2 linked regions of the Homo sapiens genome follow. The protein of the gene in region 1 interacts with the protein of each later gene in a pairwise test. Each region holds a gene or a part of one and is shown in the gene's direction. Other genes may lie near its edges.

The links.
Region 2: the proteins of RDH12 (region 1) and PLEKHA7 interact in binary tests that used the Homo sapiens proteins (3 or more experiments, as listed by UniProt).

The regions. Positions count from the first base shown.
Region 1 is NC_000014.9:67,699,974-67,703,895, forward strand, and holds the start of RDH12 (retinol dehydrogenase 12), read left to right. Parts: upstream 1-1,912; 5' UTR 1,913-1,962; intron 1,963-3,922. UniProt on the Homo sapiens protein: Retinoids dehydrogenase/reductase with a clear preference for NADP. Displays high activity towards 9-cis, 11-cis and all-trans-retinal. Shows very weak activity towards 13-cis-retinol.
Region 2 is NC_000011.10:16,818,803-16,822,724, reverse strand, and holds part of PLEKHA7 (pleckstrin homology domain-containing family A member 7), read left to right. Parts: intron 1-3,922. UniProt on the Homo sapiens protein: Required for zonula adherens biogenesis and maintenance. Acts via its interaction with CAMSAP3, which anchors microtubules at their minus-ends to zonula adherens, leading to the recruitment of KIFC3 kinesin to the junctional site.

The DNA.
Region 1 (3,922 bases):
TACTAAAAATACAAAAATCAGCTGGGCGTGGTGGTGCGCACCTGTAGTCCCAGCTCCTTGGGAGATGGAGGCAGGAGAATCGCTTGAACCTGGGAGGCGGAGGTTGCAGTGAGCTGAGATGATGCCACTGTACTGCAGCCTGGAGACAGAGCGAGAAAAAAAAAAAGGATACTTGGATTTAATTAAAATACAGGAAGAGTGTGTCCAGAGTTATGAGTGTACACTATATTTTTGAGGAAAGTAAACAAGGAAACTTGTATCTTAAGCAGGACAATAAATATGTCTCAGTAACAGCATCAAAAGTGCCCTGGTTATAGGAAATAATTTAGCTATATCGAGAAAAGCCAAGACTACAGAATCAAGTTATATTGGAGGAAAATGGTTTTGTTCCAGAGCTTTAAGATAAACATTTTAGCATCAGGCCACACCAGAGTTAGAACCAGAGAAAAAGATTACAGAAGGCCGGGCACAGTAGCTCACGCCTGTAATCCCAGCACTTTGGGAGGCCGAGGTGGGCAGATCACGAGGTCAGGAGATCGAGACCATCCTGGCTAACACGATGAAACCCCGTCTCTACTAAAAATACAAAAAATTAGCCGGGCGTGGTGGCGGGCGCCTGTAGTCCCAGCTACTCGGGAGGCTGAGGCAGGAGAATGGCGTGAACCTGGGAGGCGGAGCTTGCAGTGAGCCTAGATCGCGGCACTGCACTCCAGCCTGGGTGACACAGCAAGACTCCATCTCAAAAAAAAAAAAAAAAATTACAGAAGTTGGCTGGGCATGGTGACTCATGCCTGCAATCCCAGCACTTCGGGAGGCCGAGGCGGGTGGATCAGCTGAGGTCAGGAGTTTAAGACCAGGCTGGCTAGAATGATGAAACTCTGTCTCTACTAAAAATACAAAAATTAGCTGGGCACGGCGGCGAATGCCTCTAATCCCAGCTACTCGGAGGCTGAGGCAGGAGAATCACTTGAACCTGGGAGGCGGAGGTTGCAGTAAGCGGAGATCTTGCCACTGCACTCCAGCCTGGGTGACAAGAGCAAAATTTCATCTCAAAAAAAAAAAAAAAAAAAAAAGTCAAAGATTACAGAAGTTGACAAAAAGGTTGAAGGAGAGGATTATCATTTCAACCAAGAAAAACATGTATCTTTTTAAGGGTATAAAGAACGAACAACAACGATTCATGACTTGGGAATCATGTGCAGCGAGGTATAGCACAAGTAGAATTTTTTGAGATATAAATTTGAGAAGTTTTAGAAAAGAAATAGATTGTAGAATTTAAAATCAAAAGCTCTTGTAATTCACTAAGAGCAAATTTATACTTTAAGACAATGTTATTTTAACATAGAGGACCAAAATCTCAATCTTTAGAAACACTTATAACTTTTTTTTGATTATAGCCAACTTAATCACATATACATTTAAAAAAATTTTAAAGAACTTTATTATAATTTCTTTTTTTTTTTTTTTTTTTTTTGAGATGGAGTCTGTTGCCCAGGCTGGAGTACAGTGTCACTATCTTGGCTCACTGCAAACTCCGCATTCCAGGTTCAAGTGATTCTCCCGCCTCAGCCTCCCGAGTAGCTGGGACTACAGGCATGCGCCACCATACCTGGCTACTTTTTGTATTTTTAGTAGAGATGAGGTTTCACCATTTTGGCTGTGCTGGTCTCGAACTCCTGACCTTGTGATCCGCCCACTTCAGCCTCCCAAAGTGCTGGGATTACAGGCATGAGTCACCACGCCAGGCCTATTATGATTTCTGTAGACTATTTATGACATGTTTGAACTTTTGTTTTGCCCTACCCTTTCTCTTTTATAATTAACCTGTCATTTTGCTTTAGGAAAATAATTTACCATGTAATAAATTATTATCATGCAGTGGCATGATCAGCTCATCGTAACCTCAACTCCTGGGCACAAGCAATCCTCCCTTCTCAGCTTCCTGAGTGGCCAGGACTACAGGTAAGTGCCACCATGCCAGACTAATTTTCAAAATTTTTGTAGAGACAGTATCTCACTGTGTTGTAGAGACAGTGTCTCACTATGTTGCTTAGGCTTGTCTTGAACTCCTGATCTCAAATGATCCACCTGCCTTGGCCTCCTAAAGCATTAGGATAACAGTCATGAACCACTGTGCCCAGCTTTTTTAAAAATTTAATATATATATATTTTTTAAATGGAGATGAGATCTCATTATGTTGCCCAGGCTGGTCTCAAACTCCTGAGCTCAAGTGATTCTCCCACCTTAGGGTCCCAAAGTGCTAGGATTACACACATGAGCCACCATGCCTGGCCTGTGCTCAGTTTTTTAAGTTTTTTTCTATTAACCATTTTTATAGCCTGTGAATGTCAGATATTTACCTAAGCAAGAAATTTAAAGTTAAATACATGGGTATTTTGTTGATAACTCAGAAGGTTTAGCTGTATTTCTTAAACCAACAATATTAAATTAGTCTTACTTATAAAAAAAATCACACAAAGATTATTTTGGTTTTGGCTGGGTTCATAGTTTTTTACCTTTGTGCCAAATCCTGACCCTGTAAAATATTTAATAAGACAAGTATAAATCTGACCATAAATCTAGGCAAATATGTATGTTGACAATTTTGAAGACATTTTAATATTTATTTTACTAATAATTTTAAAGCCAGTTTATTTATTAAAGAATTACTTAAGTCATGTGAACTTGGAAAACCTTTGGGCTTACTAATTTATGAGTGCTCATTTATCTATAAGTCAATTGGGTATCATGTAGATACAACATATAACATATTACATGTATATATGTAAACACATCTAAACACACATATATATGCACAAATAGAGATCTTATACCTTTATTTTTTGATTTGTCTTTTGAAACAGGGCCTCACTCTGTTGCCCAGGGTAGAGAGCAGTGGTATGACCATGGCTCACTGCAGCCTGGACCTCCCAGGCTCAAGTGATTCTCCCACCTCAGCCTCCTGAGTACCTGGGACTACAGGTGCGTGCCGCCATGCCCAGCTAACTTAAAAAAGTTTTTTTTTTGTAGAGTCAGAGTCTCACTATGTTGCCAGGGCTGGTCTTGAGCTCCTGGGCGCAAATGATCCTCCTACCTTGGCCTCCCAAAGTGCTGGGACTGCTGGCATGAGTCACCTCATCTGGCCCTTATAGTTTTCATTTTAGAATTTTAGTCATGAGATAGTAATACAAACTCACCAGTTTATAAAAGATAGTTGGATCTAAATTATTTTTGGAAAAAATTGGGACCTGTTAGTTCACATGGCTAAATTTTATTTGTCCCAATAGGTAATCTAATGAAGGCTGTGAGCCAAAATTTTTGGGTAAGGTAGTTCGATGGCAGTTTTATTTTAAAAATCTTTTATCCTTTTATTCAGTTTCAAATGAGTTTAGAGTTAGGTTTTTAATGTTAACATTTTAGCTTGAACTGGCTGAATCGTATAAGAAAAACAAAATTTCTAAGTCTTCTTAAGTTAGTAATACTATAAACAGTGAGCTTTATCTCAACACAAGTAGAAAAGTCAGTAGTTTCAAAGTAGGCAGAAAAAATATATAGAGGTAGACAGAGAACTTAGACGATCCTACATGTTAACTCTGTAGTTCTGGGTGGACCACTTGAGTTCTAATCTGTCTATTATTTTAAGATGTGCACAACAATGGGCCATAATATGTATCTAGCTGGAGTCTCAGAAAACCCAGTATGTCTTTTTTTATTTTTCCGAGACAGAGTTTCACTCTGTTGCCCAGGCTGGAGTGCAGTGGCATGATCACAGCTCATTGCAACCTCTCTCTCCTGGTCTCAAGTGATCCCCCAACTTCAGCCTCCCTAATAGCTGGGACTACAGGTGCATACCACCGTGCCTGGCTAATTTTTGCATTTTTTGGGTAGAGATGGGGTTTTGCCATGTTGCCCAGGCTGGTC
Region 2 (3,922 bases), on another chromosome or scaffold:
CAGAGGGCCAACAACAGAACACTGAGGACCCCTAGCCTAAGGGTCAGGCAAAAGCTAAGTCACCTGAAGGAGATGAAGAGAAGATGGGGGAGGAAAACTGGAGGTTTTGTTGGGGAGAGTTTCAACTGGAAGGAGTCCAGTCAGCAGTGCACGGTGCTGCAGGTAAGGACTTCCACCTGGGCGTGGTGCCTTCTTTCCTTTTTTTTTTTTTTTTTTTTTTTTCCCCTACCAAAAGCAGACACTTGAGATGTGGTACCTTTCAAGGAGGCTGGGCACCCCTGAAGGAAAGTCCAGAACCTCACGGGTCTTTTGCTCAGTAACAGAAACCCTTTTTCCACTGAGCTGCTTGATGGGCTTAGATGGGCAAACCTGAATTACCATGCTTAACAGAGCTACAGGGTCAAAGTTAGCTCAGGACGCAGAGTAAAAGGAGGGGTTGAAATCAGTAAGACGGCATGGCCAGTGAGAAACTCTTTGTGGCAGGGGCACAGAAAAAACTTTCAAAAGCTGGGTGACTGATATGCAGTGATAAGTTGTCAGTTATGAAATGTCTCCGCATAACTGCTCCAGCAGCCTGTAAACCATGTTATTCTGCTACACACAACGGCCTGAATTTGAGAGTTGGGAGTGGGGTGTGCACCAGAGACCTAAAGGATGAGAAGTTAACAGGGAAATGAGAGGTGGGTGGGGAGGGCATAGGACTTTCCCTGGGATGCAAGATGGGGATTTGAGCCATTCTTATCTAAGGGGAAGGGAGACATCAGGTCTGTAGAGGAGAACAGCTCATTGGCTTTAGAGGTCACTGAGCACACAGTGAGAGGAATTTCATTCCAGTAGGGCAAGCAGATCTCAATGGGCTAGAAAGTGAATAAAAGTGAAGAATTGAAGGCAGAAGACAGAACAGAAAATGCTGTCAATCTTTAAGTGAGCAAAGTGTCTCAGTCTCTGATTATCCTCTTGTATTTTAAAAGGTCTGCCTCTTATAGTCCCAGATTTTTTTTTTCTTAAAGATATATTTGTAGTCTCTTACAGTTAGTCATAAATAGATCTAGGTGCTGAATAAAGGAACTCCTCCATTTTCCATTTGAAAATATATGAGATAGATATCTCTGCTTTGCATATCATCAAGACTGCTAATCTCATTAGACTGAGCACATTAAGACATTGGGAGGAAGGTTATTTGAACTGCAATATGATCCTGTATTTTTGGCTTTAAACCAACAGGGAAGTATTTCTAATTGGAGATACAAATTTCACATTAAACTTTTTTAGGATATGGTTTGTGGGAGACAGACTGACACACTCTTAGAATCTCACTGTATTTTAAGAGCTTGTTTTGAAATTTTAGGCTTTCATTTTCCCACCCTGACCTCCCAGTGTTTAAAGTAATGCATACTTGTAAAATAGAAATGTTGGGGTGAGGGATAGAGTTAGGATCAGGAGACTCAAACACTACAATAAGGAACAGAGTAGAAAATGGAAGTCCTGTGTGATTGATCTGGAAGTTAGGGTGAGGAACATCTGCTGAGTAAAGTATAATAATTTGTTGCAAAAAATGATATTGCATCTCCACATGACCATTTCTGTAATGGCTGTATCAGAATATCCTGTTTAGTGCCTGTTCAGTGACAGGGAGTCCCTGTGGCCACAGAGCATGGTATAAGGAGACCTTGAGCCCAGTTTTTGGGTAAGACCGGAGGTTAGGGGGCCAGCAAATGGATCTGCTGTTAGGGGCAAAGCTGCTCTGGAAGCACCCACTTGCTCGCATGGGGTCTATACCTCAACCACAGTACCACCTCCTCCTGTGTCCCTCCTCCATAGTTACCTTGTTTTGACCCCTAGAGCCAGGGCTCACCATTGCACTGGTACCTTGGGGTCATTCCAGAATGGCAGACTATGTGTAAATGGAGGGTACAGGTTAGAGGATGAGCTTAGGGATTTGAGGTGCAGCTAGTGGGGCAGTGGGGAGGTGAGGGTGGACTCTGACCTTCCAGGCACTGTAGGCAGGCAAGGGGAGTGAGCTGCAGAGCCAGGCAGGAAGGGCGTATGGGTGGGAGCACAGCTCTGAAATGCTTTGCATAGTTTGCATTTTGCTTCTGGCAGAATGAACAATGGTTAGTCAAGTCCTGAACTCCCCAGGGGAAGCCTCCAGCCTGGTTTCTGCCACCGCTACCACCTCTGTTTTGAGGATTCAGGCACTGCCCCGTCTCAGAGGCACATTTGTGTCTAACTTTGGGAGATCGATAGCAAACCCTGCCACCTAGTGGCAGGCCGACTCACTTGGCAGGCACGACAAGTAGGTTGAAGAGATCTTAAAATTATCTACTGTAATGGCAAAGATAGCTTTATTTGAATGACAACTATTTCAAATCCTCACAGCAATTTTCTAAGTGGTTCTTACTATCCCCATTTTGTAATAAGGAAGGTGAGACTTAGAGGGCCTGGATGATACTTGCCTGAGGTCATATAGCTAAAGTGATTAAATGAGTTGAGTTTTAAAACAATTAGAACAGTTTCTCAAACCTTACAGAGCACTAGAATCTCCTGGAGGGCTTGTTAAGACACTGATGCCTGGGCACCATCCCCAGAGTTTCTGATTAGGTAGGTCTGAGGTGGGGCTGATAACCAGCATTTTAAAAATATATCTTATTTTTAATTGACAATAATTATATGTATGGGGTAGATGTGATGTTTTAATATATGTATACATTATGAAATGATTACATCAAACCAATTGACATTCATCACCTTACCTGCTTATCCTTTTTGGTGGTAAGAACATTTAATATCTACTTTTAGTAATTTTGAAATATACATTATTATTAACCATTGTCACCATGCTGTGCAGTAGGTCACCAGAACTTATTCCTCCTAACTGAAACTTTGCATCCTTTGACCAACAGCTCTTCTTCCATCTCTCCTCTCCCTCCCAAAACCTCTGGTAACTACCTCTCTACTCTGTTCTTCTATGAGTTTGACCTTTTTAGATCCCACATATAAGTGAGGTCATACACGGTATTTGTCTTTCCATGCCTGGCTTATTTCATTAATGTGCATTTCTAACAAGTCCCCAGGTGGTGCTGATGCTGGTGGCACACAGGCCACACTTTGAGTAGTGTTGGCTTGGAACAATGTCTGGCACAATATCAGCACCAAATAAATGTTAGATAAAATTGATAGGTGAAGGCAGAGTCAGAATTGACCTCAAGCCTGTCTGACTCTAAAACTTGTTCTCTTTTTACAACATCATGCTGCCTCTCAGGCTTAGTAAAATTCCATACTTTGTCCCTTGCTTAATTTTTTTTCCTTCTCAGAAAATAAGTTGGAGGCTGGGTGCGGTGGCTCATGCCTGTAATCCCAGCACTTTGGTAGGCTGAGGGGGGCAGATCACTTGAGGCCAGGAGTTCAAGACCAGCCTGGCCAACATGGTGAAACCCCGTCTCTACTAAAAATACAAAAATTAGCCAGGCGTGGTGGTGCACACCTATAGTCCCAGCTACTCAGGAGGCTGAGGCAGGAGAATCCCTTGAACTCGGGAGGCGGAGGTTGCAGTGAGCCAAGATTGCACCGCTGCACTCCAGCCTGGGCAAAACAGCGAGACTCCAGAAGAAAATAAGATGGCGGCCAGGCATGGTGGCTCACTCCTGTAATCCCAACACTTTGGGAGGCCGAGGCGGTCAGATCACAAGGTCAGGAGATCGAGACCATCCTGGCTAACACAGTGAAACCCTGTCTCTACTAAAAATACAAAAAATTAGCCGGGTGTGGTGGCACACGCCTGTAGTCCCAGCTACTCAGGAGGCTGAGGCAGGAGAATCACTTGAACCCAGGAGGCGAAGGTTGCAGTGAGCAGAGATTGCACCACTGCACTCCAGCCTGGGCAAAAGAGCAAGACTCTGTCTCAAAAAAGAAAAAAAAGAGA